Linked DNA regions of Homo sapiens. The protein of the gene in region 4 interacts with the protein of the main gene of each other region in a biochemical or structural test. Each region holds a gene or a part of one and is shown on either strand. Other genes may lie near its edges. The genes, in order: PPP1R2, PTPRD, KIF24 and NEK2.

Region 1 (8,408 bases), on a different chromosome or scaffold from region 4:
CTCCTGGGCTCAGGTGATCCTCCCACTTCAGGCCACCCCCAAGTAGCTGGGACTGCAGGTGTGTGTGTGCCATCATGCCTGGCTAATTTTAAAAATTTTTTGTAGAGATAGTGTCTCACTATGGTTGCCCAAGCTGTTCTCAAACTCCTGGGCTCAAGAGATCCTCCTGCCTCAGCCTCCCAAAGTGTGGGATTACAGGTGTGAGCCATTGCACCTGGCCCTTTCTCATTAGTGATTTTCTTAATGGCCTCTGGGAACTCGTCTGCAGCCTGTTGGTTGGCAGAAGCTGCTTCTCTGTTATCTTGTAATTTTAAAGCCAAACCTCTTTCTAAAATTATCAAACCATTGTTTGCTCGCATTAAATTCTCCAACTTTAGATTCTTCACCTTCTTTTTGCTTTAAGTTATCATATAGTGACATCATTTTTTCTCAAATCATATTAGAGTCTATAGTCTTGTACAATCCTGCACTCACATAAAAGATGCATCGGCAATACAAAAGGCACTTCACAAAATATGCAAGGTTTTCATGCTGGTATCGCTACTGCAGTGACAGCTTTGTGAATTTCCTTTTATTTGATTTTATTTTTACAATGGTCTTTATGGTGGATTCATGTTTAAATGATGGGCAGCCGCAGTTGCAGAGCTCCATCTAAGGTACTCATCAAGCGTTCTACTTTTTCTTGTAATGTCACAACTTTGCTTCTTGGGAATGCTTCCAGCATCTCTAGTGGCATTTTGTATGACTCCCATGGTGTTACTCAAGGTTTACAATATTGCACTAAATAGGATAAAAAATACTCAAAAACCAAGACAGATCACTTTTTATTGCAACAGGCAATTTACTGGAGCAACAAACTACTCACACTGAAACAACTAGCATCATAGAGCTTTTTTTTTTTTTTTTCCTGAGGCAGAGTCTTACTCTGTTGCCCAGGCTGGAGTGCAGTGGCATGATCTCTGCTCACTGCAACCCCTGCCTCCCGGGTTCAAGTGATTCTTCTGCATCAGCCTCCTGAGTAGCTAGGACTACAAGCGCAAGCCACCATGCCTAATTTTTTTGTATTTTTGGTAGAGACGGGGTTTCACCATGTTGGCTAGGCTGGTCTCGAGCGCCTAACCTCAAGTGATCCACCTGCCTCAGCCTCCCAAAGTGCTGGGATTACAGACGTGCCTGGCCGCATCATAGAGCATTTTAAGCAAACTTGCAACACTTGAGGAGACTGCAGTAGCAACAAGAGATAGCTGTGAAACTGTGACATAGAATAGTATGTACTGTAGTTAATTTTATGCAGTTATGATCCAACTGCAGATCCAACACCATGTGTTGTATGTGCATGTTTTGATAAATTTTAACGTTACATTTTAACTAGGCTTGTGAATATTTTATGGTAGTAAATGATAAAGTAGACTATTCTCTATGTATAATGCACTTATGACATAACTAACTTTTAAGGTTTTTTTAAATATTTCTGGGCTATGTGGTTTATCTGAGTTTCTTCAAATTGTCACAAGCCTCCAAAAAAATTTCCAGTAGATTTGTTGAAAAAAAATCCGCATATAAGTGGACCCACACAGTTCAAACTCATAATATTCAAGGGTCAACTATAAATAGAGTCCAAGAGAAGATTTTTTTTTGGCTTCTCTATAGTAAAGGGTAACTGAAACTTGAACCTTCAGTGTCTGTCTCCCGGTTAAATTTGTTTTTTGTTTTCTGCCACAAGCTCAACTATGTGACAGGCAGAAGCCTAGGCATCTGAAGACATCGGTATTGTTAAAGCAAGCTCTGTTTACCCAGTCTAGTTCAGTCCCAGAAGAGTGTGATGAGTTCCCTTAAAAATTACACAGTCCCACTCCTGGCAGGTGACTTTTTTCAAATACTAAGGACATATTAATTTGATTATGGCCAGGTGTGGTGGCTCATACCTGTAATTCCAGTACTTTGGGAGGCTGAGGCAGGGGAATTGCTTGAGGCCAGGAGTTTGATACCAGCCTGACAACATAGCAAGACTCCACCTGTAAAAAAAAAAAAAAAAAAAGAAAAAGAAAAAGAAAAATTAGCTGGGCATGGTGGTGCGTACCTGTGGTCCCACCTAGTCAGGAGGCTGAGGCAGGAGGATCACTTGAGTCCAGGAGTTCGAGACTGCAGTGAACTATGATCATGCCACTTTACTCTAGCCTGGGGTGACAGAGACCCAGTCTCTTAAAAAAAGAGAGACATTCTGACACATGCTACAATATGAATGAACCTTGAAGACATTATGCTTAGTGAGATACGCCAGTCACAAAAGGACAAATACTTCATGATTTCGCTTCTGCGAGGTACCTAGAGTGGTCACATTTCTAGAGATAGAAGTAGAATGGTGGTTGCCAGGTCTAGGGGCTGGGGAGAGTGGGGAGTTAGTACTTAATGAGTACAGTTTCAGTTGGGGAAGATGAAAAAGTTCTGGAGATGAATGGTGGTGATGCTTGCACAATGATGTGATGTTCTTAATGCCATAGAATTGTACACTTCGTAATGGCTAGTGCTTACTTCAGGAGCACGTGCACTAAAATTGGAATGATACAGGGAAGATTAACCAAAAAACAAAAAGGTTAAAATGGTGAATTTTATGTATGTTTTACCACAATTTTAAAAAATGAAGAAAAAAAGTGCTTAGTCCGAAATGGGGACACTGTGGGTATATTAGGGTAGAAAGCAAAAGAATACGAAGTCACCTGCAAGAGTAGGCCTGTATAATTTTTAAGGTAACTCATCAAACCATTTTGAGAGTATGGAAAAGGGAATATGTTATTAAAATGTTGAGTATGTTATTCTTAAAGGGTATTTCAGGATCTGGGAAATTGAAAATACCTGCAGTAAAACCTTAACAATTTAGACCAAATGTGGAAAGCATTATTTAAATCAGTGTAACATTTACATTGATTCTTTTTAAGGCAGGTTTTTCCAAGTACATACTAAGTAACAAACTATATGTAACAAAATAATGTTGGCTTGTAGAAAGGTCTTTGAGGTCTTTTTTAAGGAGTATGTAAGCATTTAAAATGAAAGCATTTAATTATCGAGCACCTTAATAGTTGTGCAAATACTTCATTGCATGAAATTTAACAGATGTTTCTAAAGTACTTATAGGCCAGGCACGGTGGCTCACTCCTGGAATCCCAGCAGTTTGGGAGGCCCAGGCAGGCAGATCACGTAAGGTCAGGAGTTCAAGACCAGCCTGGCCAACATGGTGAAACCCCGTCTCTACCAAAAATACAAAAATTAGCCAGGTGTGGTGGCAGACACCTTTAATCCCAGCTACTCAGGAGGCTGAGGCAGGAGAATCGCTTGAACCCAGGAGGCAGAGGTTGCAGTGAGCCGAGATCGTGCCATTGCACTCCAGCCTGGGCGACAAGAGCAAAACTCTGTCTCAAAAAACAAAAATAATGGCCCGGCCTGGTGGCTCACACCTGTAATCCCAGCACTTTGGGAGGCCAAGGCAGGCAGATCACGAGATCAGGAGTTCAAGACCAGCCTGGCCAACATGGTGAAACCCTGTCTCTCCTAAAAATACAAAAATTAGCTGGGCGTGGTGGTGCGCGCCTGTCATCCCAGCTACTCGGGAGGCTGAGACAGGGGAAGCGCATGAACAGGGAAGGTGGAAGTTGCAGTGAGCCGAGATGGCGCCACTGTACTCCAGCCTGGGCAACAGAGTGAGACTCCGTCTCAAAACAAAACAAAAATAATAAAGTACTTAGAGAGAACGTCTATTGCTCTTCAAGTAGGTTTGAATACACCATTTCTGAGCAAACCTTTATTTTTCTAGATTAGAAATAAACAGAGCTGTAATTTATTTGCAATCTAATGATTTAGTGGTGTCTGAGTTTGATGAGGTTTTCTCTATAGTTTTATTGTTTGAATCTTTATGTTCTGAGTGTTAACAGATATCCCAGAAAGAAATTATGCCAAGGAAGTACTCCTGTTGTGTTTTTTACCGAACAGTTACTGATATATAGATCAAAAATGCCTACTGACTTCAGCGAATGTATAGATTTTGACTTGCATTATTTTATAGGCCAAATGAAGGCTAAGCATGTCATAGTATGGTAATGTTTTGAATGCCTGATATAGATACTAAATATTGTGTTTTTAATATGTGGGCACTAGGTGTTCTATATTTACTGACATTTTATTGTAGTTACTTAATGGTTTTTACCCTGAGTCAGCTTCTATTCCAAGAAAGTATATGTGAAAATAGAGGTTGGCCATCAAATAGAAGTTGAAATGTTAAATTTGGACATTTGTGAATTTTGATATTCAGGTTTATCTTTTTCTGCATTGGGAAAAACGTTTTTTCTTTTTAATTTTAGCAAAAAATCCCAGAAGTGGGATGAAATGAACATCTTGGCGACGTATCATCCAGCAGACAAAGACTATGGTTTAATGAAAATAGATGAACCAAGCACTCCTTACCATAGGTAATGTTACGTAGACGTCATTCCTCTTGTGACTTACTTCCATTTTGCATTTCATATGAACGTCTGGATAACAGCCTATTTGAATTTGTTTTATTGTAGATTTGTTACTGGAGCACTAGTGAAGTCAGTAACCTAACTGCAATTTGTTTAGTAATGGTTTAAGTGATGTGTAAGTTTAAAATTAAGAAAGCCATTTTGTACATTATAATGGTAGTAGTAAATGTTTATTTGTTGCACCTCAGTGGTTGCTAGCTACTAATGGTGCATATATTAGTTTTAACTTCCATGAAAGGAAGATGAGATATGGGCTTGTTTGCTTCCCAAGTAGAAATCTGGGGTTTACTCAGTCTCTTTGCAGAGAAGCATAACTGCATGGATGGTAACCCACTGAAAGATAGGTGTCATTATTACTGTTTATGTCTTCATTTTTTAACTTAATGTAATATTGTTGTTCAGATCATTACATGTAATTTTTGACAATTTCAAGTCTCAGAATTTCCTAAATGAATTGTGAAATTACATTACGCAGCAGTAACCAGTATGAAGACAAAAATAATGCAAGAAGCATTATGAGAAGATGAGGATTCTAAATAGGTATAGATACCTAATTAAGATAATACCTTGGGCCGAGCACTGTGGCTCACGCCTGTAATCCCAGCACCTTGGGAGGCCAAAGTGGGCGGATCACCTGAGGTGAAAGACCAGCCCGGCCAACGTGGTGAAACCCCATCTCTACTAAAAAAAAAAAAAAATACAAAAATTAGCCAGGCATGGTGGCGGGCACCTGTAATCCCAGCTACTCGGGAGGCTGAGGCAGGAGAATTGCTTGAACCCGGGAGACGGAGGTTGCTGTAAGCCAAGATCACACCATTGCACTCCAGCCTGGGCGACAAGAGCAAAACTCTGTCTCAAAAAAAAAAAAAAAAGATAATACCTTGGCTGGGCATGGTGACTCTTGCCTGTACTCCCAGCACTTTGAGATTACAGAGGCAGAGGTGGGAGTATTGCTTCAGGCCAGGAGATCAAAACCAGCCTAAGCAACATAGTAAGACTCTTTCTACAAAAAAAAAAAAAAAAAAAAAAAAAAAAAATAGTTATGCCCTACCTACCTTGTATTGAAAAAAATAAAAGATTTCCAAGATTAAAATATTTTGTCATTGAATTAAGACAGCATAAATCCAAAAGTTACCATTAAAATAGAGGTAACTGCTGTTTCCATTTGTTCTGTAGTGAAAGAAGAGTTAAGAACTACTGTATTTTAAGTCAGTGGGTGAAAACTTTGGAAGATAATTTGAAATAACCTGTTACTAACAAAAACAGTAAAAATAAAAAACTTGAAGATATTAAAGACTGATGAGCATAAAAAGAAATAATGAAATAGGTACAGATGCTGAAACTCAATACTGATGAAATTTGAGTGAAGAAATACACAGTTTTTTGTGGTATATATGTATGTACCATGGAATATATATAAAAAGGAACAAAATAATGGCATTCACAGCAACCTGGATGGAGTTGGAGACCATTACTCTAAGTGAAGTAACCCAGGAATGGAAAACCAGACCTTGTATGTTCTCACTTATAAGCGGGAGCTAAGCAAAGGCATAAGAATGATACAGTGGACTTTGGGGATGGGAGGGGTGAGAGGGGGTTGAGGGATAAAAGACTACACATTGGGTGCCGTGTACACTGCTCGGGTGATGGGTGCACCAAAATCTCAGCAATTACCACTGAAGAACTTACCTGTGTAACCAAACACCACTTGTTTCCCAAAAACCTATTGAAGTAAAAATAAATTGAGGGGAAGAAAAACAATAAAATTACAATTAGTTAAAAAAAAATACGCATGCTAAAAAGAGGTTTATATTCTTATTTTTCTCCTAAATTGCAGGTATATACTTTAAAAATCTTAAAAAAAAAAAAAGATACAAGATCTGGCTATGTTGCCCAGTGCAGTGGCTATTAACAGGCACAGTTATAGCACACTACAGCCTGGAACTCCCGACTCAAGTGATCCTCCCTCCTCCGCCTCCCAGGTAGCTGACTATGGGCACACATCACCGTGCCCAACTTCTAAAATGTATATTAAAACCTTTATTGTACCAGAATCCAAAATCAGAGTGTACTTTCTTTTTACTAAATGTAGTGGCCATCCGTCACTCACTTGTGTTAGTTGGGGATAAGTATCCTAGGAGAATTAAGATCAGACATGATTTAAAAAAATAGTTGAGGCCAGGTGCAGTGGCTCAACGCCTGTAATCTCAGCACTTTGGGAGCCTGAAGCAGGAGGATCGCTTAGCCTCCCAAAGAATGCTGTTTTTTATTTTTTATTTTTTATTTTTTTGAGACAGAGTCTCACTCTGTCACCCGGGCTGGAGAGCAGTGGCACGATCTCAGCTCACTGCAAGCTCCATGTCTCAGGTTCAAGAGATTCTCGTGCCTCAGCCTCCCAAGTAGCTGGGATTACAGGCACCCACTACCACGCCTGGCTAGTTTTTGTATTTTTAGTATTGACAGGGTTTCACCGTGTTGGCCAAGCTGATCTCAAACTCCTGACCTCAAGTGATCCACCCACCTCAGCCTCCCAAAGTGTGGGATTACAGGCATGAGCCACCACGCCCTTCCCCAAAGAACTCTTGCCCAGGAGTTCAAGACCAACCTGGGCAACAGAGTGAGACTCTTATCTCCACAAAAAAAATTAAAACAAATTAGACTAAGCACAGCAGCTCACGCCTGTAATCCCAGCACTTTGGGAGCCTGAGGCGGGTGGATCACCTAAGGTCAGGAGTTCAAGACCAGCCTAGCCAACATGGTGAAACCCCGTCTCTACTGAAAATACATAAAAATTCCCAGATGTGGTGGTGGGCGCCTATAACCCCAGCTACTCGGGAGGCTGAGGCAGGAGAATCACTTGAACCTGGGAGGCAGAGGTTGCAGTGAGCTGAGATCGCGCCATTGCACTCCAGCCTGGGCAACCAGAGCGAAACTCTGTCTCAAATAAAAAAAGTAAAATTATCCAGAGGTGGTGGTGTGTACTTGTAGTCCCAGCTAGCTAGGAGGCTGAGGCAGGAGGACTGTCTGAGCCCTGGAGGTTGTAGCTGCAATTAGCCATGATCACGTCATTGCACTCCAGCCTGGATGACAGAGGGAGACCTTATCTCTAAAGAAAAAGAAAAAAAATTTCAGAATAGCTATGGCCATTATTTTTTGACTGTTTATAAATATAATTTGAATGGTAGATATTTGCCATTCAAATAACCAGAAAAGTTATTTGGTCCCTAAGTAATTGAGGCTATGTGCATGCAGAGATAACCTGTGTCCTGCTTTTATCAGTTCACTGCTCAGTTTTATCATTTCTTTCCATGACTTTCTTTTTTCTTTTTGAGAGTTTCATTTGGCCAGCCATGGTAGCTCATCCTTGTAATCCCAGCACTTTAGGAGGCTGAGGTGGGAGGATTGCTTGAGCTCAGGAATTGGAGATGAGCCTGGGCAACATAGAGAGACCCCGTCTCTACAAAAAATAAAAAGAATTAAGCCAGGAATGGTAGCACATGCCTGTAGTCCCAGCTACACAAGAGGCTTAGGTGGGAGTATCACTTGAGCCCGGGAAATTGAGGCTGTAGTGAGCCGTGATGGTGCCACTGTACTCCTGGGTGACAGAATGAGACCCTGTCTCAAAAAAAAAAAAAATTTTATTTAAGTGAAGATGCTTTTTATAGAAACATCATGTCTTATTATCTAAGAATCTCACAGTTAGTATACAAGAAGTTATTGCTTCTGTATACATGTACATATATAAACATAATTCAGTAAATTTTACAACTAGAATTTTCTATAGAACGATTCTATAAATTAACAAAATGTTTATTTTACCTTACTTTGCTTGATTAAACTCAATAACATAGATCAATTTCAACTTCCCTTAGAAAAAAGAACGTCATCTAAACT
Region 2 (8,408 bases), on a different chromosome or scaffold from region 4:
CCTTATTAAACCCCTGAAATAATTGCTTGGTGTGCTACTAATCAGTTCTCTGTGCAATTCCAAGCATAAAGGTGTTTATGTCTTCATGACCCCTGCTGCTGAAACTGTAAGGATAAAGCTGCTAACTCTATAAAACAAGTGCTACATGCAAATAGCACAGTTGCATTTCTGTCTTCGTATACTTTCTTAATTATAAACACATAGTATTATATATACATGTGTATTCATATATGTGCACATATGTACACCTTTTTGTTTGAATTATTAAGACTTACCGAAACATTTAGTTTTTTGATTGCAATGGAAAACTGTATTTTAAATAGTAATGTGAGTTGTCCTTGAGACAAGAATGAATTATGAGGATACATTCATATGTTCTCATGAAGTAATAGAAATGATTAAACTGTGAGCTTATGAATGGCTATGCCTTTCCATTCAACTAGAAAGAAGTACTTCCTCTTCCCGAGAGTTCTCAAAGCCAGTTCCTGTAGTTTTTTTTATCCAGTGGAAGTGTTCTTATTCCTGGTCTACATATCTGTGAATAACCACAAAGGCATGGGTGGGGGTGGGATTAAAGAAAAGACTGAGAGGGCTTTAAGTTACAATAGGATGGGTTCCCTTAAGAAAATACCTAGCTTGATTTTGAAATTTTTGTTAGAGGTAATTTTGTTTCCCTGGGGATGTTTTTCTCTCCTTTCTTTTTTTATGGAGTCTGGGGTGGGGAAATATGAAGAAAGTCATTTCTTCTCTAAATTCTTCGAAAGTCCCTTGATCCTTTTTCCACAATAGTGACCTCCCTTGCTGCATGAGGCATGTGTACCTTCTTCCATGGAAAATTTCAAAATGATGCTAGCTATTGTTTCTAATACCATGTTAGTCTGTGAGATATTGCTAACTTTTCCAGCTGAGATAGGAAGGATGAACTAGAGCGAATAAAGATGTTCAAGTAGCAGTTGAAAGCCTTGATATGGCCTTTTTACTCTCTCTGTGTTTCCCTTGTTTTTCTCCTTTCCTCATTTCATTGTGTTCTGCATCAAACCCCCTACATCCCTCAGAGCTGCGAGAAGGTTGGTGTGTTTTTTACTTTTTACCCACCTTACAAAACTATTAATTAAACCAATAACAAAGAATACAAATGAAATGAATGTAGCTGCATTGTGTTCTTCTTTTGGTTAATGGTATGTTTTAGCAGAGAATGCCCTGGCCATGGCTTCTGGTGCTTGCTGGTGGTATCTAACTGTGGTGCATGGTGGGAGAGAATGTACCTGGGTGCATGGTAACTGGTAACACTTAACTCTGTAAGGTCCAGTGAACTTGGTCAGTGTTCCTGCTTTCCTTCCTGCTCCACTGTCCCCATCTCCCACCCTGCCTTTAATTTCTGTCTTATAAGGATGCCTGCTGCCCATAGAATGACTTTTTCTAGTTTCTCCCCTAATCCCAAGCATGAAGACTAAACTCTCCTCCATTTTTCTTGATATGTTCTTTGATACCTCAGAGTCTACACTGGCTCCTGCTTGCTTTGTGTAACCTCTGTGAATTGGCTGCAGGAGGCATGCTTAGCTTTCTCTTCTTCTCCTATGACTGTCATTCACCCATGAGGCCATTGCAGTGAGCCATCTCAAATAAGCGGAGGTTTATCTCGACCTTAAGAGCAGCCAAAAAGTTTTCAGACAGAATTACTTATCTTCTTCTTGGGGTTATGAGGTTACTTATCAGTTTATTTATAATTTTTAAAAAATCTTTATTAAATGTATTTAAGGTGTGCTCCCTAAAGATTACCCTCTAGATCTCAAATTCTTATGGTATGACATTTTGCCAGTAAAAGCCCCAGATGAAACCAATTTATCTTTCACTTTCTCCTTGTATCACATCCAAAACACATTTACTTAAACACACATAAACCTGCAGATTATCTGAAGCAGGAACACTGAACTGAAATTGCTTGGTAATTTTTCTGTGTTATGTTGCTTTAATATGATCTCTTCTCTTAATGTCATGTCCTGCTGTATGTTTTAGATCCAGTGTCCCTCAATTTGAATGTGGGCATAAAAAGCCTTTTAAAAGATTTTGTTGTCATTTATGTTGTTTTACCTTTGATATGAATTGAATGGAATCCTGTATGTGAAACACCCAGCTCCCTTTCTGAATTTGCAATCCTTACCTTTAACAACTTGAGCTTAATCTTCTGTCTTTCAACCCTGTCATCCCCTAAGTCCCTGTGTTTCAATCGTTATACTTTACCTCCCCCTTTCACGTTTATTTCTATTGCCCCCTTATTTCTTCTGCGGTCATTGCTGTCTTGGATTCCAGCCATTCTTTCAATATCCTTAGCACGGGCCTTGAGATTCCATCTTGTGCATGCCTTGCATGACCCAATCCAGTATCTCTACTGGTGTTAGCCTGTTTCTTCTTCTGTGACTGTAAATCAATATGTATATACATTTCTGTGTTTGTTCCAGTGTTAGTGTGAGGTCTTGAGGCTGCATCCACTATGAATCTGAAAACATAAAGTGCACTTTCAGTGTACTCTAGGTGATGTTTTCCAGGGCTGGGATGTGACAGTGTGGTCCCACACCTACATTCACATCAACTGGAAGTGCACAGCACTGAAGTTGGTTTTGATACTCAACTTAAACATGCTGGTGACCTTCCAGCCCCCTTTTCTGCATATACATGCCTGCATAGAATCATTGTTATATGCCTGCATGTATATGTTTTTGTGTTTATCTTATGCATGATGTTTGTGTATTGTTAGTTTGTAGATAGTTTTTTGTGGGGCCCTTGTAGGTCTGAATCAACTTTTGTATTAGTGTGTCTAAGATATCAATGACTAAACTAAATAAATAATTCTGTGTATACACACACCATACTTGTATGGTCTGTATTATCCACAGTTTTTCTTTATGTTTTGTTTTTGGACAATCCACAATGTTTCAATTGTTGAATCGTGTCTGTACGGTGCATGTCATGTGTTTAATAATCCACTTTTTCTTGCCTTGTATATGTTATCATTTCCCTTGTGTTTTGTTCCAGTTCGCCGTGTCCCACCAAGATTCTCTATCCCACCCACTAATCATGAAATCATGCCAGGCGGAAGCGTTAATATCACCTGTGTGGCCGTGGGGTCACCAATGCCTTATGTAAAGTGGATGTTGGGGGCAGAAGATCTGACACCTGAAGATGATATGCCAATAGGAAGAAATGTGCTAGAACTGAATGATGTAAGACAGTCAGCAAATTACACCTGTGTTGCTATGTCAACACTGGGTGTCATTGAAGCAATAGCACAGATCACTGTCAAAGGTATGCTCAATGGATTATGCTTTGAGGATCTGGGTACACTCAAGCCAAGTGACTAATGCCTCTAGAAAGCCCATCCTTGAAAATCTAAAATAATTCATTATTCAGCATTTTAAATGTGTGTATAACCTAATCATATCTGTGGTATTATATAACATGCATAAGCCTAGATAGGCGGATTTTTTCTTGGAAGTATCTGGCAGCCTATGTAGAGATAATCATCAGAATATTAAAAGACAGTCCATGGAGGCCCAGGCACTAACCAGACAGAACTAGGAATTTTACACATGGTCGACCATTATGGTGGGACTGATGTGTACAGTCTACATACTAGACCAGAACCTTGATAAGAACCCCAAGAAAAGTCAATATGAGCATTAATAAATGCTTAAAATTTCTAAATACAAAGGAAAAAGAAGAAAAAAAAAGTTGAAATCAACATAGTCTAGTAATAGATGATTTAACTTTTTGGTGAGCCCTACTATTAAAAATCAAAAGGCAAGTAAGAGTATATTCTGTTGTAGTTTTATCTTTCACCTTGCATAGATGAGTGCTCAAGGAATATTCTTTCCTTTAAAAAACAGACTAAATATAACCAAAGTACTATATTACATGAATATTTTTGAACTAAAGAGAAAGAGTACAAGCATGTAAGGGTACCGTTTTTTTTTCCCCTAGTGTTTATAGAATTCTAGAAAGTGTTTGCAAATTGAGTCAGACATAGGGCAACTTAAGTTTTCTGCAGATGGCTAGAACTATTGCAAAATGAACACAAATTATCTTCTTTTCCTAGGCAATGTTGTAGGCATTTGGAATTCAGCAGCAAGTAAGAAGTACAAGTTTGCTACTCTTGAAAAGCTGCCATTCTAGGGGGTGATCTTAGAAAATGCAATACACGTTATAATTGGTATCGCATCTCTAACCAAGCGTATATATCAAATATATGCTATATAAAACTAATGACATGAGAACAAAGGTACACATTGTCAACATTTACAATCGTGAAATAATGTTATATTGTGTAACCTTAATATAATAAGCACACATGTATTTATCCGTACATTACAGACATAAAACCTGTACTGTACAATAAATGTGACTTAGTGAAACTAATAATGTCAGCTAAATATCAGTGAGCACAGCTTTAATTAGCAATATTTGTATTTGCTTTGAAAGTTCAGAAAGACATGTAGGGGAAATCTGGAGCACACACAGCCTTGAAAAATGCCAGGTCAGAATATTTAAACAAATTTCATTTTATTATTATTTTCAGTAAATTCCCTTGACAAAATACTATCATTCTGTAGTTCTTTGAGTAGTGTGTAAATATTGAATCACCTTTTTTATAATTACCATTTCAGCTTTAAATATTTGAAGGCTTGCTGAAGACCTTTAAGAATTCAAAAGCAGGGGCCACTTTAAACTAATATTTTGTTCACCTTCTCATCTTTGTTTTCCTGACTCTTGCCACTTCCCTGTCTTTTCCACCTCAAAAATAAACAAATAAAACATAAGAGTGAATCTTAATGGCAAATTAAAATAAATCAAAACAAAAGAACAGGTTGAAGAGAATGAGGTGAATGGGTGCTGACTCATTTATTCAGTTAACTGTTTAACGATTCTCATTAAAAACCTACCGAGTGCCAGGCAGCATTCTAGGCATTCACAATTTTACAGTAAGTCAGAAGTACAAGTTTGCTGCTCTTGAAAAGCTGCCATTCTAGGGGGTGTTATACTTCTTGCCTTTATGTTGGCAAGGAAACAGGGACACTAATGGGCTGATTATATGAATGTTACCCTTTGAGATTTCTCTAAAGAGTCAACTATTAGAATGCCCCTTCCTACCCTAATAGCACTGCGTTTCAGAATCATTGTTTAGAATAAGGCACTTGAATATGAGGTCAGCAAAGCAGACAGTTTATATTTTTAATTAGTAGTATTTTGATTTGTATTCTTCTGCTAAAAAGAAAGAATTAGACCTCTAAAAAGATGGATTTTATTGCAAATATTTGTCATGTAGCTACATTGGATATTTCTGATGTGGAATATAGAATGCATATTAATATGACCATAACATACCTTAAAAAGTGATTGGTGAATGTGCCTTAATTTACTTCCTTCAGCAATTTTTAAATATTAAGAATAAAGCATTGATTTGAAATTTCTATTCTTTTGCACCTTAAAATTTTTGGTTTTTCATTTACAAGAAAATTTTTAGTAATGGTATTGTGTCTTACCAGAATATAGATGTTATTGTTTCATCGCAATTTAATTTCATTTCAATGTATTCCACATTTTGTTCTTTTCAATGTTTATCGGTATTTCAGTTATACCATTTATTTATTGGGGCAAGGGGCTAATTGGCCAAGCTTTTGGTATAATAATAGTAATAACTGCAGCTAATACTAAGGTTTTTTTGTGGGTTCCAGTTACATTCTAAGAATCTTAGTGGATTGGCTCATTAGTCTTCACAGCAAACCCATGAAATACAGTTACATACAGCTGTATAATATGACTTAAATAATAATATTTTTCCCATTTCCACATGAGGAAACTAAAGCAAAGAGAGGTTAAGAAATGCGTGCAGGATCACTTAGCTAATAAGTAGAGGATTTGGATACAAGCCTAAAAATATGCTATCAAGCCCTTCTAGGAAAGCAGGATTTGTGTCACCTATGAATGTTTTCCTGTCCTTCTTGGCCATTCAGAAAACTACTCTTTGCTATAATTTCATTTAATTAAATCTTCAGTAGATACATAATCCTGTCATTTTCATAGTAGAGTTTATAGATTTTTGAAATATTATAGGGATGATGGGTAGTCATTGTCTTTTATCTTCCCCCATCCAAGCCTTACCCAAACCTCCAGGAACTCCTGTAGTGACCGAGAGCACAGCTACAAGCATCACACTGACGTGGGACTCTGGGAACCCTGAGCCTGTTTCTTATTACATAATTCAGCATAAACCTAAAAACTCTGAGGAACTTTACAAAGAAATTGATGGGGTGGCGACCACACGCTACAGTGTCGCTGGACTAAGTCCCTACTCGGATTATGAATTCAGGGTTGTTGCTGTCAATAACATTGGGCGGGGGCCTCCCAGCGAACCTGTGCTAACACAAACCTCAGAGCAAGCACCATCCAGTGCCCCGAGGGATGTCCAGGCACGAATGTTGAGTTCGACCACCATTTTGGTACAGTGGAAGGAACCTGAAGAGCCAAATGGACAGATCCAAGGATATAGAGTTTATTATACAATGGATCCCACTCAACATGTCAACAACTGGATGAAACACAATGTAGCTGACAGCCAAATCACTACTATTGGCAACTTAGTGCCCCAGAAAACATATTCTGTCAAAGTCCTGGCTTTTACCTCAATTGGAGATGGTCCCCTTTCAAGTGACATACAAGTCATCACTCAGACAGGAGGTAAGTTTGGTTGAGGAGGGAAATAGGGCAGGAGGGAAGGGCTGGTGCAAAGAGGTGAGAAGGACAAAAACAAAGAAGGAACAAAGATGGTATGAATTTTAATTTTTGAGATTTAGGGCTTCAAAGCAACAGATGATAGATATCTGAAAAGGAACAAGCATGGACATCTGAAAAACTAATCATTTTGAGCAGAACAATGCATTAACACCCCTTCTTTTTAATTTGTATGGGAATGACTTGAAGACTTCTCTATGTGAGATAGAACAATGTCTCCCCCATGCCCAGTTTTGAGAATAGAAAAACGACACTTCTTTGTAATAGCTAGTATGGTAGAGTGGTCTCAAAAGAGTATTTAATTTGTGTAAGATTGGATGGTTCAAGACAAAGCTAAAAAATAAAACTGTTACAGGGCCTTGGGTATTTAAATGGCTTATATTTGCCAGAAGCTACTGGCTTGAAAATAAGTATTCTCTGAGTGGCTTTAATTTCTGTTTTTCTCTGTATGGCCTCAGTGGATAAAGAGAGACAGTTACCGAGATCTCAGATAGAACATTGGGCCTGATTGATTAACTTTGCTAAGAGCTACAGCAGACATTAGACTATTTTATGAAGGAAAACTTGGCCCTCCCAGTGGTTTTATTTTTCTAAGAGGTTATCAAACCTCTTTGGTCTTTGAGTCAAGGTGATCAGTTTGGCTTTGGGCTAATATAAAATAACAGGCCTCTTCTAAAGTTTATTCTTGAGCCACGCACAGTGGCTCACGCCTGTAATCCCAACACTTTTGGGAGGTAGGTGGATCACTTGAGGGTCAGGACTTTGAGACCAGCCTGGCCAATGGCAAAACCTCATCTCTATTAAAAATACAAAAATTAGCTGGGCATGGTAGCAGGCACCTGTAATTCCTGCTACTCAGGAGGCTGAGGCAGGAGAATCACTTGAACCTGGGAGATGGAGTTTGCAAGTTTGCAGTGAGCTAAGATTGTACCACTACACTCCAGCCTGGGTGACAGCAAGACTCCATCTCAAAAAAAAAAAAAAAAAAAAAAAAAGTTTATTCTTGAGCATCTGAGAGCTACTTCTTTGACTCCTTATTGTGTTGGCATCTTTTAAACCTGCATTAATCTACGAATGTTTTGGCATCATGCTGTTGGCTTGTTTTGAAATCTACATAATAATCATATTATTGGAGACAGTATAATCTGTAGACATAACTCATTGCTAATCCTGGCAATGAATTAATAAATTTTCTCAGATGCCAGTACTAGATAATGTACCTATCATCTATTTCACTGATACCTGTGAATCACTGACTTGTTTTCATGGCATGGTCTTTATATGAAGTATGTTTAACTATTTGTCCTTGCTTCTAGGAATCTCAGAGCACATTTATATTAATAGTTCGCCTGCCTTTATTTTCATACCATTATTTGGTTCTTATTGGCTTGTTCATGGATTTACTCTTTTCTCTATGACATTGTAGGAAAGCCAGCTATAAAAATATGTCTCACCACAGTTGTATTAAAAACTATCCATATATCTTCTCTGTGTGCCATTTGCAGTACTTCTGTATTTATTTGCTGTAGTAATATGCAGAAAAAAAATACTGTAGGCTGTTCTTACCAAAAAAGCTTCTCATTGGGAAATGTAGACATCCGTAAATCTTGTTTTGCTTTTTC
Region 3 (8,408 bases), on a different chromosome or scaffold from region 4:
ACCATATTGTATTGGGCAAAACAAGTCACAAGGCTAGCCTAGATGAAATGAGGGAAGAAATAGACTTCACTTCTTCATGGAAGGACCTGCAAAAAATTTTTGGTCTTTAAAAAACAAATCTGCCTTCACAAAACAAATCTACCAGCCAGTGTGGTGGCTCACGCCTGTAATCCCAGCACTTTGCGAGGCTGAGGTGGGTGGATCACCTGAGGTCAGGAGTTCGAGACCAGCCTGGCCAACATGGCGAAACTCCTTCTCTACTAAAAATACAAAAATTAGCCGGGTGTGGTGGCACGCACCTGTGAATCCTAGCTACTCAGGAGGCTGAGACAGGAGAATTGCTTGAACCTGGAGGCGGAAGTTGCAGTGAGCCAAGATACCACCACTGCACTCCAGCCTGGGCAACAGAGTGAAACTCCATCTCAAAAAAAACAAATCTACCACAAATAGAAGGCCAGGATTAGTTTAGGATGTGTTACTCAGCCCATTTAGCCTTTTAGCCTAAGTAGTATTTCCCCCAAAGCTAATTATTCAACGTTCTTTGGTTATCTTTATTACCTTGCCCTCACCTCTTTCTCTGTTTCTGCTAGAAAGAAGATGAAATAGAAATTAAAACGAAAACAGGAAAGTTGTACCACTAGTTACCTAACTGAATTTTTGAAAACTCTGAATTATGAAACCATTTTAAAAAAGAAAATGTACTGTATTTACTTTTGGATATTCTCATGAACTTGATTAACAGTGATATAGAGAGCTCAGGATCCTGACTTTTAATAATAGACCAGGATTATGTGTTATTACCACATTATTTGTTAGTATTTAATTAAATATCTTGATATTAAAATTTTTTAAAAGATACAACTATTTAAAATCTTGACCTTAGTATTAATTTCCTGGGCAAATTATTTGATTCATATTCTGTACAGGTAGAGATCGATGACCACCTTTTGGAATGATCTGAAATCCTGAATTGGCTGATGCTGAATTGATGATGTCTTTACTTCTATTTAACTAACTTTTGCCAGTACTCAGCAAATGCAAATGCTATCTTCCTTTGAGTTACATTAGTTTATAATCCTCTGTGGTATGCCATTTAATTCTGCTTTTCATTCTGAAAGAGTTCTTAGCCCCTGTTCATTATTCATGGGAAACAGTTGTGCAGCATGCCTTGACATTAAGTTGAGCATCTAAAATTAGTCCTGCTACAATCAGTTGTTGGGAACAAGGTTTCAATAGTTGTGGCATGTGTTAAGTAGACATTGCAAGGTTGGAAGGAACTCCCTAGAAATAAGTAAGTTATGTGTTATGTATGTGTTCATTTGTGTATCTATGTGTATATATATATGTGTGTGTATATATATGTGTATATATATGTATATATACACATATATACGTATATATGTATATATATACGTGTATATACATATATACGTATATATGTACATATATACGTATATATATACATATACACGTATATATGTATATACACGTATATATACACATATGTAAAATGGAATGTCTCTTTTTATTAAGCAAATTAACAAATTATATGTTACCACAAATTCTTCATATGCAATACAAAGCATCTTTGTTCATGCACTATGCTATTTAATCAATAATTTCAGAAGAAAAATATGTTATTGAGAACTTGACAGATAAAACATTTTTTGCATGTTTGTTTTGTGGTTTTGTGGTTTTCAATTTTTAAAATAAATAATTGTATTACATGTACTCTATTTCAAGCGAATGGCTTTTCTTTCTCTCTTCAGAGTTTATAGAAACCTATTCACCAAAATGGCATCCTGGTTATATGAATGTCTTTGTGAAGCTGAACTTGCACAGTATTATTCTCATTTCACTGCCCTTGGCCTTCAGAAAATAGATGAATTAGCCAAGATTACAATGAAGGACTACTCCAAATTAGGAGTCCATGACATGAACGACCGCAAACGTCTCTTCCAACTTATCAAAATTATTAAGATTATGCAAGAAGAAGATAAAGCAGTCAGTATCCCAGAGCGTCATCTTCAGACAAGCAGCCTGCGCATCAAATCTCAGGAATTAAGATCTGGCCCTCGCAGACAGCTGAATTTTGATTCTCCTGCTGACAATAAAGACAGAAATGCCAGCAATGATGGGTTTGAAATGTGCAGTTTATCAGATTTCTCTGCAAATGAACAGAAGTCCACTTACCTAAAAGTGCTAGAACACATGCTACCAGATGATTCCCAGTACCATACAAAAACAGGAATTCTGAATGCCACAGCTGGTGATTCCTATGTGCAAACAGAAATCAGCACTTCACTCTTTTCACCAAATTACCTTTCTGCAATACTGGGGGATTGTGATATTCCCATTATTCAAAGAATCTCTCATGTTTCAGGGTATAACTATGGAATCCCTCATTCTTGTATCAGGTAATAAATTTTATCTTTCTTTCTTTTGAGGGAAAGTAGCCTCAGGCAAGGGCAGGCCTCTCCTTCATGTCCAGCAGACAGCATCTACTCCTTATTTATAGTAAATGAATATAACAGAAATTATCATGAACAGCATTTGCATCAATAATAGGAATACCTGGATGTGGGAAAATTAATGAGAAATTGGGACTTTCTAGGTGGGAGAAAGATGATATTGTTCATGTACATCAGAACAGCTGCTACTTGCCAGGATCTGTAGCAGATCTGTTTCTATTGTTTATTATAGCGTAACATGATACATCTAGTACATCTGTGAAAGTGAAATAGTTAACCCTTCTACAGTGGAGAAAAAAATTACACAATCCACAGGACTTTTTTAAGGTTATCAAATTCACTTAACCCAACCAGGAGACTTAAAGATGCTTTGTTAAAAAACAAGGGCATGTAGTTTAATTAAGTAGGTCTTTGGGGCAGTTAGTTCACCTACACACATTGAAATATGATCCTAATTTTGAGTGCTTTCTACAATTTCAACCCCGGAAAAAACAGATAATTTTGGTGATTACAAACAGTAAGACATTGTTGGTGGAGATGAGAGTTTGAGAGTCAGGGTGACAATAAGTTATTTTCACCTAGTGCTTCGAGTTAGAATTTGAAATAAGGTCCCTAAGAGGTGAAATAACAAGTAATCCCTAGTACTAACAATGGTATAATAGGAAATATGTTCTTTTAATCTTGTAAAAAAAAAAAAAAAGTACTCCTTGTTTTATTTTAAACATTATATATGTGAGTTATGGGCAAACAAAATTCATTCTTGAGCCATATTTTCTTTTTAAAAATACTGTTATTCATACCTTAAGATAAAGAATTTATATCTGGTCTTACATTGGCTAAGGTTTCAGAAGATCTCATAATCAGTTATTTTACTCCATAAAAATAGAAGACTCAGTTTTAACAGTAAAAATATCTTTAATAATTTGAAATACATAAGTGAATTTTTATTATAATATTTCTGAAAACATTTTGTTTGGTCTAGGAGATCACAGAGCATGTAATACTGTTTTCTTCTTTTAATTCTGAGAGGAATAGATTGTTCCTTGACTATGAAGGCAGATTGTTGCTATTGCATTGGTTACCTCAGCGGTGAAGGAGTAAATATTTTCTTTTTTTTTTTTTTTTTTTTGAGACGGAGTCTCGCACTGTCGCCCAGGCTGGAGTGCAGTGGTGCAATCTCTGCTCACTGCAAGCTCCGCCTCCCGGGTTCATGCCATTCTCCTGCCTCAGCCTTCCGAGTAGCTGGGACTACAGGCGCCCGCCACTATGCCTGGCTAATTTTTTGTATTTTTAGTAGAGGTGGGGTTTCACCATGTTAGCCAGGATGGTCTTGATCTCCTGACCTTGTGATCCACCCGCCTCAGCCTCCCAAAATGCTGGGATTACAGGCGTGAGCCACCACGCCTGGCCTATTTTCTTGAATATTACTTTTTTACTGAACAGTACATAAAAATCTAAATTGGAATTACTTATAAGTAAAAATACCACTTTATTTAACACCATCAAGGATAGGATGGATATTTTAGTTTAACCATTACCATTTCATTTATTTGACTCTTTTGTTTATTTGTTTGTTTGTTTGATTTGTAGAGACAGGGTCTTGCTCTGTCACCCAGGCTGGAGTGCAGTGGTGCAGTCATAGTCCACTGGGGCCTCAAACTCCTGAGGTCAAGTGATCCTCCTGCCTCAGCCACCCAAGTAGCTAGGACTACAGGTATGCACCACTGTCCCCAGCTAATTTTTCAATTTTTTGTAGAGTTGGGGATCTCACTATGTTACCCAGGCTGGTCTTGAACTCCTGGCCTCAAGTGATCCTCCCACCTCAGCTTCCCAAAGCACTGGGATTACAGGTGAGAGCCACTCTGCCCTGCCCAAACTAGAGCTTTTTAAAAAAACATGCATGTCTTTTTGCTCCTTGAACTTGAAACTATGGGCCTTTTGTTCATATGAGTCATCCTAGAGCCCTGAACAATTTTAAAAAGGACCAAACATTTTCTATCCTCTTTGATCAGCTTTATATGATTAGGTTATTGATATCCAACAACTAAAGATTTTAACACAAAACCCTTATTAAAATGATGCATTAGGCCAGGCACAGTGGCTCACACCTCTAATCCCAGCACTTTGGGAGGCCAAGGCGGGTGGATCACCTGAGGTCAGGAGTTCAAGGTCAGCCTGGCCAACATGGCTAAACCCCATCTCTACTAAAAATACAAAAATTAGCAGAGCGTCATGGCAGGTGCCTGCAGTCCCAGCTATTCTAGAGGCTGAGGTAGGAAAATCGCTTGAACCCAGGAGGCAGAGGTTGCAGTGAGCCAAGATTGTGCCACTGCACTCCAGCCTGGGTGACACAATGAAACTCTGTCTCAAAAAAAAAAAAAAGCATTAAAAATTTTCATTTTTGATGAGCACAGTGGCTCATGCCTGCAATCCTGGCATTTTGGGAGGCCAAGGCAGGCAGATTGCTTGAGCCCAGGAGTTCGAGGCCAGCCTGGGCAACATGGTGAGACCCTGTTTCTACAAAAATACAAAAATTAGCCAGACATGATGGTGTGCACCTGTAGTTCCAGCTACTATTGGCTGAAGTGGGAGGATGGCTTCAGCCCAGGAGGTTGAGGCTTCAGTGAGCTATGCTCGCACCACTGCACTCCAGTCTGGGTGATAGAGCAAGACCCTGTCTCAAAACAAAAAATTCCCTTTTCTTGTGAAAAATCAAACATATGCAAAAGAAGAAAAAAATAGAACACTGAATCCCAATATGTCCATCATCCAATTTCTTTTTCTTTTTTCTTTTTTTTTTTTTTTTTTTCAGACAGAGTCTTGCTCTGTTGCCCAGGCTGGAATGCAATGGCACTATCTCACCTGTGAACTCCACCTCCTGGGTTTAAGTGAGCATGCCCAGCTAAGTTTTATATTTTTAGTAGAGATGGGGTTTCACCATGTTGGCCAGGCTGGTCTCGAACTCCTGACCTCAAGTGATCTGCCCGCCTCAGCCTCTCGAAGTGCTAGGATTACAGGCGTGAGCCACCGCACCTGGCCCGTCATCCAGTTTCAATGATTGTCACGATTTTCCCACAGTACCTCAAAATGGTACATTTCATTTATTCTGTCATTTATTTATTCCATCTGCAGTTTCATGCAAAAATGATGCATTTTAAAGTCCCTAAATGTTGGTTAAGAAAATAAAATTTGCTTTAAAACATGCCATAAAATTAGTGCTTTATGCATTCATTATATTAGAAAATTATTTGCTGGTTTTTTTTTTTTTAAACCAATTCAGATCCCAGTAAAAAAATTATTCTCCAGGCTGAGCGTGATGACTGATGCTTGTAATCCCAGCACTTTGACAGGCCAAAATGGGAGGATTGCTTGAGGCCATAAGTTGAAGACCAGCCTGGGCAAGATAGTGGGACCCTGTCCCTACAAAAATTACAAAAATTAGCCAGCTGCGGTGTTGTATGCTATAGTCCTAGCTACTTAGGAGGCTGAGGTAGAATTTCTTGAACCCTGGAGGTTGAGGCTGCAATGAGCCATGGCTGTGCCACTGTACTCCAGTCTGGGTGACAGAGTGAGATCCTATCTCAAAAAAAATTTTTTTTCAGCAGCCAGTTGGAGGGCTAAGGAAATCAGAATTGATATGAAACAATTGTATAAAATAGTATTCTATATATGATCTCTTAGGGGTTTTTTGTTTGTTGGTTGGTTTTTTGTTGTTGTTCTGTTATTTGTGTTTTTGCAAGGAAAAGGGCGGAGCAGGGTGGGGATGGAGATAGAAGAACTTTCTCAGGGTTGACACTTTACTTTGTAACTTTAAGAAATATATTATGCCTAATATACAGCAAAATGTACCAATACTTTTTTTTTTTTTGAGACAGAATCTGGCTCTGTCGCCCAGGCTGGAGTGCAGTGGCGCAATCTCGGCTCACTGCAAGCTCTGCCTCCCGGGTTCACGCCATTCTCCTGCCTCAGCCTCCCAAGTAGCTGGGATTACAGGCGCACGCCACTATGCCTGGCTAATTTTTTGTATTTTTAGTAGAGATGGGGTTTCACCGTGTTAGCCAGGATGGTCTTGATCTCCTGACATCGTGATCCGCCCACCTCGGCCTCTCAAAGTGCTGGGATTACAGGCGTAAGCCACCGCGCCCGGCTAAAAGGTACCAATACTTTGACCTGTTAAGTAATCTTGTCCTATTATTAAAAATTAAAAGCCTGTTTATAAACATATTAGACAGAACACTTCAGAGAAACAGAATCCTTGGACTGAGATGGAGAAAATCAGAGTTTGTGTTCGAAAACGCCCCCTGGGCATGAGGGAGGTACGTCGTGGAGAAATTAATATTATTACTGTAGAAGACAAAGAAACTCTACTTGTGCATGAGAAGAAAGAAGCAGTTGACCTCACTCAATATATTCTGCAGGTATGATGTTTTCGTTTTATGTTTGGAACTAATATTATCAAGTATGTCATTTTTTTTTGCTTTTTGTTTGAGTGGTGGCATACAAGTTTCTGTTAGAACACTGAAAATCAAGTTTCTGGTTCGGGTGTTGACATTCATTCCTGATGTGACACTGTATTAAGTCATTGATATCCAGGGCCTTCATTTTTTCAAAAGACGGTGCAATAGGGGATACAAAAACAATTTCTCTTGTGCAGTGGAGCTACATCATATATTCACTTAACATGCTTTGTGTGAATTTAATTATACATATTCAGCAAAAAAAAGGAGGAATGAAGGAATAAAAATAATTTAAATAATGAAGTGGGGCCAGGTGTGGTGGCTCACGCCTATAATCCCAGTGCTTTGGGAGGCTGCAGTGGGAGGATCACTTGAGCCCAAGAGTTTGAGACCACCCTGGGCACCATAGCGAGATCCTGTCTCTCCAGAAAAGATCTTAAAACTAGCCCAGCATGGTGGTGTGTACCTGTAGTCTTAACTACTCAGGAGGCTGAGGCAGGAGGATCACTTGAGCCCAGGAGTTCTGCATTACAGTGAGCTATGATTGCACCACTGCACTCCAGCCTGGGCAACAGAGGGAGGATCTGCCTCTAAAAGAATATAAAAATAAAAAACAAATAAATAATTAAGTAGTTGTCAACAGGACCAGTCACTGAATATATGACTATGAGATGTCACACAGTTGATTTCCATTCTTGCTTGCATCTCACAGTGTGAACTTCTCATTCTGCTGACTTTGAGACTTGGGTTTAATGATGGACAATATCTTTTTGGGCAACAGGACCGACAATTGCCAGCCACGTGCTTATTTTGATTCTCAGCTGTCTTGGGCTTATACTTAATTGGCGAAAATTGGGCTCTGAGCAGACCACTTTATACAGGGTAGATTGCAGTGGGTAAATAAAATCCAGAGATATGATTTCACATCTAACATATAAGGGTTTAAATAAAACACTAATAACTCAGCCATGTAAATAATGTTCACTGCCTGCTAGAGTGATTATGAAGAGTCCAAGGAGAAAGAGTTTGGTATTGAAAGAAACTTATTCCAAGCTGAAGGTACCTTGCAATAATTCTTTAGTCTCATAGGGAAACAGCAAACTCCACAGATGGAAAGAATCATCATTTAGGTACTCCTAAAATTGTGAAAAATTGTGAGTAATCTAAAACCAGATAATCCATTGGATGTTAAGATTTGAGAGTACACAGTTTCTCTTACTCTGAATCTACTTCCCTAAACATTCATATTATATTTATTCTTTCTCTCTCTCTTGTTCTCTTGCCTCAAAACCCAGTGACTGGTAGGAAGAAAAAAAAATCTGGTATGCTAGCAATTCACCTTAGTCAGCTGAGATCTTACATTAGTGGAATAAATCCTTTAATGCTGAAGTGATTTGTTAACACTTTCACCCTTTTTCAAACTTGTATTGTTCTTCTTTTTCTTTGGTTACCAAAATTGTGTTTCACAGAGATATTCAGA
Region 4 (4,758 bases):
ATGACACAAACTAACTGTTAAAAGTTGTTGGTTTCAAAAATCGAGCATCTGAATTTTCAATAAAATTTAGAGTTTTTATAACTCCCTTATTCCATGTAGGACAGCATATATGAAAGCTATTATTCCCATCTTTAATAAATTGAGATGTAGTGTGATCAATTTAGTGAGCATTGGCAGCATTTTGTAAATGGAACAGACAAAAAACCCTACTTAAGTTAGATTGATGATCACAATAACTTTGTAGTGAATAAGTGATGGAAAGAAATGAAACTACTGATAGAAGTAAATGAAACAAGGATTATATGAAACTTTGGCTTCATCTCTGTTAAAATACCTTCTTTTTTCCCAATATTGCAGTCTACCATTTCAATATTATAAAAATATTTATTCTGGCTTTTCATAGATTCCACACTGTCATCCATAAAGACAAAATAGACTTAAATCATGATTAGGGTGATAAAATGAGGAGAAAATTTTACCTGGATGAATTTCATGCATCAAACCCATTGCAGAGAATTACTTAAGACCCTGTTGGGGATGGCTGTTCGGTTAAAGAGTTTATTTACATTTGCCCTGATAGTCTTTGAGCAAAAGATGAAAATAGCTAAGTAAGGATGATGTGTTTTACTTTATAGGATACACAGATAAGTATGGGAATCTACTTATATGTGAATCATGGCAAATATTTAAAATGAGCCATAGGAATCAAGTATCCACTGGGGCAAGCAGACATTTTAGGGTATTGAGTGCTGAAAGTAGTGAACACATCAGAGCTATAAGATAAGCATCATAGCAGTGGGGAGCGGGTACCATTCTGAACTCAGGACAGTTGGAAATATTCTCTCCCCATCCTTGGGCTATAAAATCCACACGTGAGGAAGCCATCACAAGTATATTGAAATCATCACAGCAAGCAGCAGTGTCTTTTTTAAAAGCTGTTCTTTTCGTATTTGATGAAATATTCATTCTTCTATTTAATGGAAGAATTTTAAAAATGTTTTTAAAACACTTTCTTTCTTATAAAACTGTCCCATTAAGAGCCAAGTGTGGTGACGCACCTATAGTCCCAGCTACTCTGGGGCTCAGGCAGGAAGATCACTTAAGCCGAGGCGTCCAAGGCTGTAGTGCACTACAGCTGCACCTGTGACTAGCCACTGCACTCCAGCCTGGAAAACATGGCAAGACCCCATCTCAGACAAAAACAAAAACAAAATAAAACTATCCCATTAGTAAGACAATGTTGACTTACAAATGTAAAGGTATTTGTGGTAATAAGAAGGTGGATAGAGTTGAAACAGTGGAGATAAGGTCTAAAAGCAATCCAGTTTGCTTTGAAGCAGAAGCGACGTATGAAGCGGGAAGTCACAGGACCCTTGGAAGGCAGTGCATCTGTGTGCCAGCCTTTCCTATTTCTTCTGCCTGGAGCACTCTTCATCCAGACAGCCCTGTGGCTTCTTACTTCAGAAATGCTGTATGAGGCTTTGTATCATTACACCCAGCACCCAGCACCCAGCATGTCCCTGTTTCCAGAGCTATTTTTCCTAATAGCACGTATTACCATCAAATATTCCCCACCAGTACTTGTTTGTTTGTGTTTGGTTTATCTCCTCCTACTAGAATAGGGCCTTTGTTTGGTTCACAGTGGCCCATCCTATGAGCTCAGTAAATATTCGAACATATTTCCTTTAACACAAAAAATAAAAGGATTCTAGAATCTGTAAGCCTCCAGCCCCCAGTAATTCTGTCAGCAGTTAATAGTGTTGCCACTTTAAGTAAATATGATTATTATTTATTTTTTCCATGTAAAGAATAGTTTACAGTTTTTACTACTCTTACTTGATTTACCTTTTCCACACTGAATTTGTTTAGATTTTTTGGAAACAGATTTCTCGTCCATTAAGATGCTTTGAACTAAGTGTTCTTGAACATTTAACCAAAACTGTAGGTGTTCTCTATTTAAAAAAAAAAAAAAAAACAAAGACAGAAAAAAACCTCTGCTTCTACACTTTTCTGTAGGTAAGGTGTTCTGCATAGAATGGCACTTATTTTCAAGGACAGAGATAAATAACATTGATTTCCAAAAGTTTTATGTTGTCCATAATACTCAGTGTGTTTAAGAGTAAAATTGATTGTTGGTTGTTAAGAGAATAAAACTTATGTTCCTTGAATTTTGGCACATTCCAATATTATTTTTTCAATGCTGTGGATTAAAAGGCTGATTTCTGCAAGTCCTACACCCCTAACCTCCTATCCCAGAGAAAATAAAACAGGCACCTAGATTTCAAATGTGAGCCATAAGAGCAAATACTTTTTGATAAGTATAAGTATGAAGGAGTTGAACTCTGTTCAAGTAACTCAGAGCCCTTTTTCTTTTTCCTTCTAAAGAACTTCTTAATCTTCCATCCTCAGTAATTAAGAAGAAAGTTCATTTCAGTGGGGAAAGTAAAGAGAACATCATGAGGAGTGAGAATTCTGAGAGTCAGCTCACATCTAAGTCCAAGTGCAAGGACCTGAAGAAAAGGCTTCACGCTGCCCAGCTGCGGGCTCAAGCCCTGTCAGATATTGAGAAAAATTACCAACTGAAAAGCAGACAGATCCTGGGCATGCGCTAGCCAGGTAGAGAGACACAGAGCTGTGTACAGGATGTAATATTACCAACCTTTAAAGACTGATATTCAAATGCTGTAGTGTTGAATACTTGGTTCCATGAGCCATGCCTTTCTGTATAGTACACATGATATTTCGGAATTGGTTTTACTGTTCTTCAGCAACTATTGTACAAAATGTTCACATTTAATTTTTCTTTCTTCTTTTAAGAACATATTATAAAAAGAATACTTTCTTGGTTGGGCTTTTAATCCTGTGTGTGATTACTAGTAGGAACATGAGATGTGACATTCTAAATCTTGGGAGAAAAAATAATGTTAGGAAAAAAATATTTATGCAGGAAGAGTAGCACTCACTGAATAGTTTTAAATGACTGAGTGGTATGCTTACAATTGTCATGTCTAGATTTAAATTTTAAGTCTGAGATTTTAAATGTTTTTGAGCTTAGAAAACCCAGTTAGATGCAATTTGGTCATTAATACCATGACATCTTGCTTATAAATATTCCATTGCTCTGTAGTTCAAATCTGTTAGCTTTGTGAAAATTCATCACTGTGATGTTTGTATTCTTTTTTTTTTTCTGTTTAACAGAATATGAGCTGTCTGTCATTTACCTACTTCTTTCCCACTAAATAAAAGAATTCTTCAGTTTCCCTGTAGTTATGTGTCTTGCATTTGTTGGTCTCTTAGTTGATGGGAGTTGTGTTTATGATTTGTAGGTCTTCATTGTAGGGTACAGAAGGAAACATGGATCTGATGCTCAAGGGAGTGGCATTCCAGTCCTAAACTGTATGGCGCTTTACCTCCCATCTCATTAATCCATGTATGTAAGCCAGTGGTCCTTAACAGGGTGATTTTGCTCCTCAAGAGACGTTTGGCAATGTCTGGGGGCATTTTTGATTGTCATGATTTGGGGTAGGGTGCTACTGGCTGCTAGTGGGTACAGGCCAGGGACACTGTAAACATTTTACAATGCACAGGACAGCTGCTGACAACAAAATGTCCATGGGTTTGGATCATAATCCTGAATGATACAATCTCAAATGCGAAAATCCTGAAAGACCAAAATCCCTAATGTCTTAAATCCCAAAAGATCAGAATCCCTAATGTGTGAACTTCCAAAATCACAATCCTGAAAGATTAAAATCCCAGATGTTAAAATCCTGAAAGCCGAATTTGAGGTTAGGGATTAGTGCCGTTTCAGCTGTATACAGGATAATTGCATCATGTTAGGCAGAACTATTACCTTGTTATTGTCTTCATTTGGAAATTAAGTATGGTTTAAGAGATGTGGATGGATATCGAGTTGATAAGGGGTGAACTTGTTGATTTATGTGTCAACTTGACTGGATTAAGGAATCCCTAGAAATCTGGTAAAGCATTATTTTAGATGTGTCTGTGAGGGTGTTTCCAGAGGAGGTTAATATGTGAGTCTCAGTAGACTAGGTGGGGAATATCTTTCCTCAATGTTTAGTGTTTTGAAGATCATAAAAGCGACTTTTCAGGTGAAAAGTACAAGAAATCTCTCCTGCCAAATTATTCAGTTATGTACAAATTCTGCTCCTTCATGAATAGTGCCACGCTTGCCTTAAAAAAATGCCCTTTGTCAGAGAATAAAATTCGACAAGCTGAACGACCTTGTGAACCAAAGACACTTGCTGATACTGAGGTTCCTCCAGTGTTACAAAACTCATTAACCAAACTGTTCTTGGTTAGGGATTTGACTGTCGAAGAAGATAGACTGCTTATATTTACCACTAAATCTAACAGAAAAACTATCGCATGTTTTCATTTTGGCTAGTGGACGGCACTTTCAAAACTATCCCTACTGGTTTTTATCAACTATACATGATTCATGCCCCTGTTGGTTCTGAAGATTCTAGAACTTATCTAGTCATTTAAACAATTATTTGAAGATTTGCTGCACTTTGCAGAAGAAAATAGCTTTCGATTGAATCCCCAAACCATAACAACAGATTTGGAATTAGGTGTGATCAAAGCTTCTAAAAGTGAATTTCAAAGTGTTACCAATAAAGTTTGTTTTTTTTCCATTCAGCCCAATGCATTTGATAGAAAATTAGATGAGTAGATAGGCCAGGAGATACAGCAATGACAAAAACTTCAGTTTAGAAGCAGGAACCCGCATCCAGG

Evidence for each region.
Region 1: the proteins of NEK2 (region 4) and PPP1R2 form a complex in vitro, tested with the Homo sapiens proteins (one study listed by BioGRID).
Region 2: the proteins of NEK2 (region 4) and PTPRD form a complex in vitro, tested with the Homo sapiens proteins (one study listed by BioGRID and IntAct).
Region 3: of the proteins of NEK2 (region 4) and KIF24, one has a biochemical effect on the other in vitro, tested with the Homo sapiens proteins (one study listed by IntAct).

What each region holds. Positions count from the first base shown.
Region 1 is NC_000003.12:195,525,846-195,534,253, reverse strand, and holds part of PPP1R2 (protein phosphatase inhibitor 2), read left to right. Parts: intron 1-4,352; coding exon 4,353-4,460; intron 4,461-6,351; coding exon of another isoform or gene 6,352-6,496; intron 6,497-8,408. UniProt on the Homo sapiens protein: Inhibitor of protein-phosphatase 1.
Region 2 is NC_000009.12:8,516,172-8,524,579, reverse strand, and holds part of PTPRD (receptor-type tyrosine-protein phosphatase delta isoform 1 precursor), read left to right. Parts: intron 1-1,055; coding exon 1,056-1,067; intron 1,068-3,033; coding exon 3,034-3,303; intron 3,304-6,150; coding exon 6,151-6,732; intron 6,733-8,408.
Region 3 is NC_000009.12:34,304,733-34,313,140, reverse strand, and holds part of KIF24 (kinesin-like protein KIF24), read left to right. Parts: intron 1-1,234; exon of another isoform or gene 1,235-1,291; intron 1,292-1,769; coding exon of another isoform or gene 1,770-1,794; coding exon 1,795-2,417; intron 2,418-6,699; coding exon 6,700-6,889; intron 6,890-8,408. UniProt on the Homo sapiens protein: Microtubule-dependent motor protein that acts as a negative regulator of ciliogenesis by mediating recruitment of CCP110 to mother centriole in cycling cells, leading to restrict nucleation of cilia at centrioles.
Region 4 is NC_000001.11:211,661,280-211,666,037, reverse strand, and holds the end of NEK2 (serine/threonine-protein kinase Nek2), read left to right. Parts: intron 1-2,385; coding exon 2,386-2,612; 3' UTR 2,613-3,266; downstream 3,267-4,758. UniProt on the Homo sapiens protein: Protein kinase which is involved in the control of centrosome separation and bipolar spindle formation in mitotic cells and chromatin condensation in meiotic cells.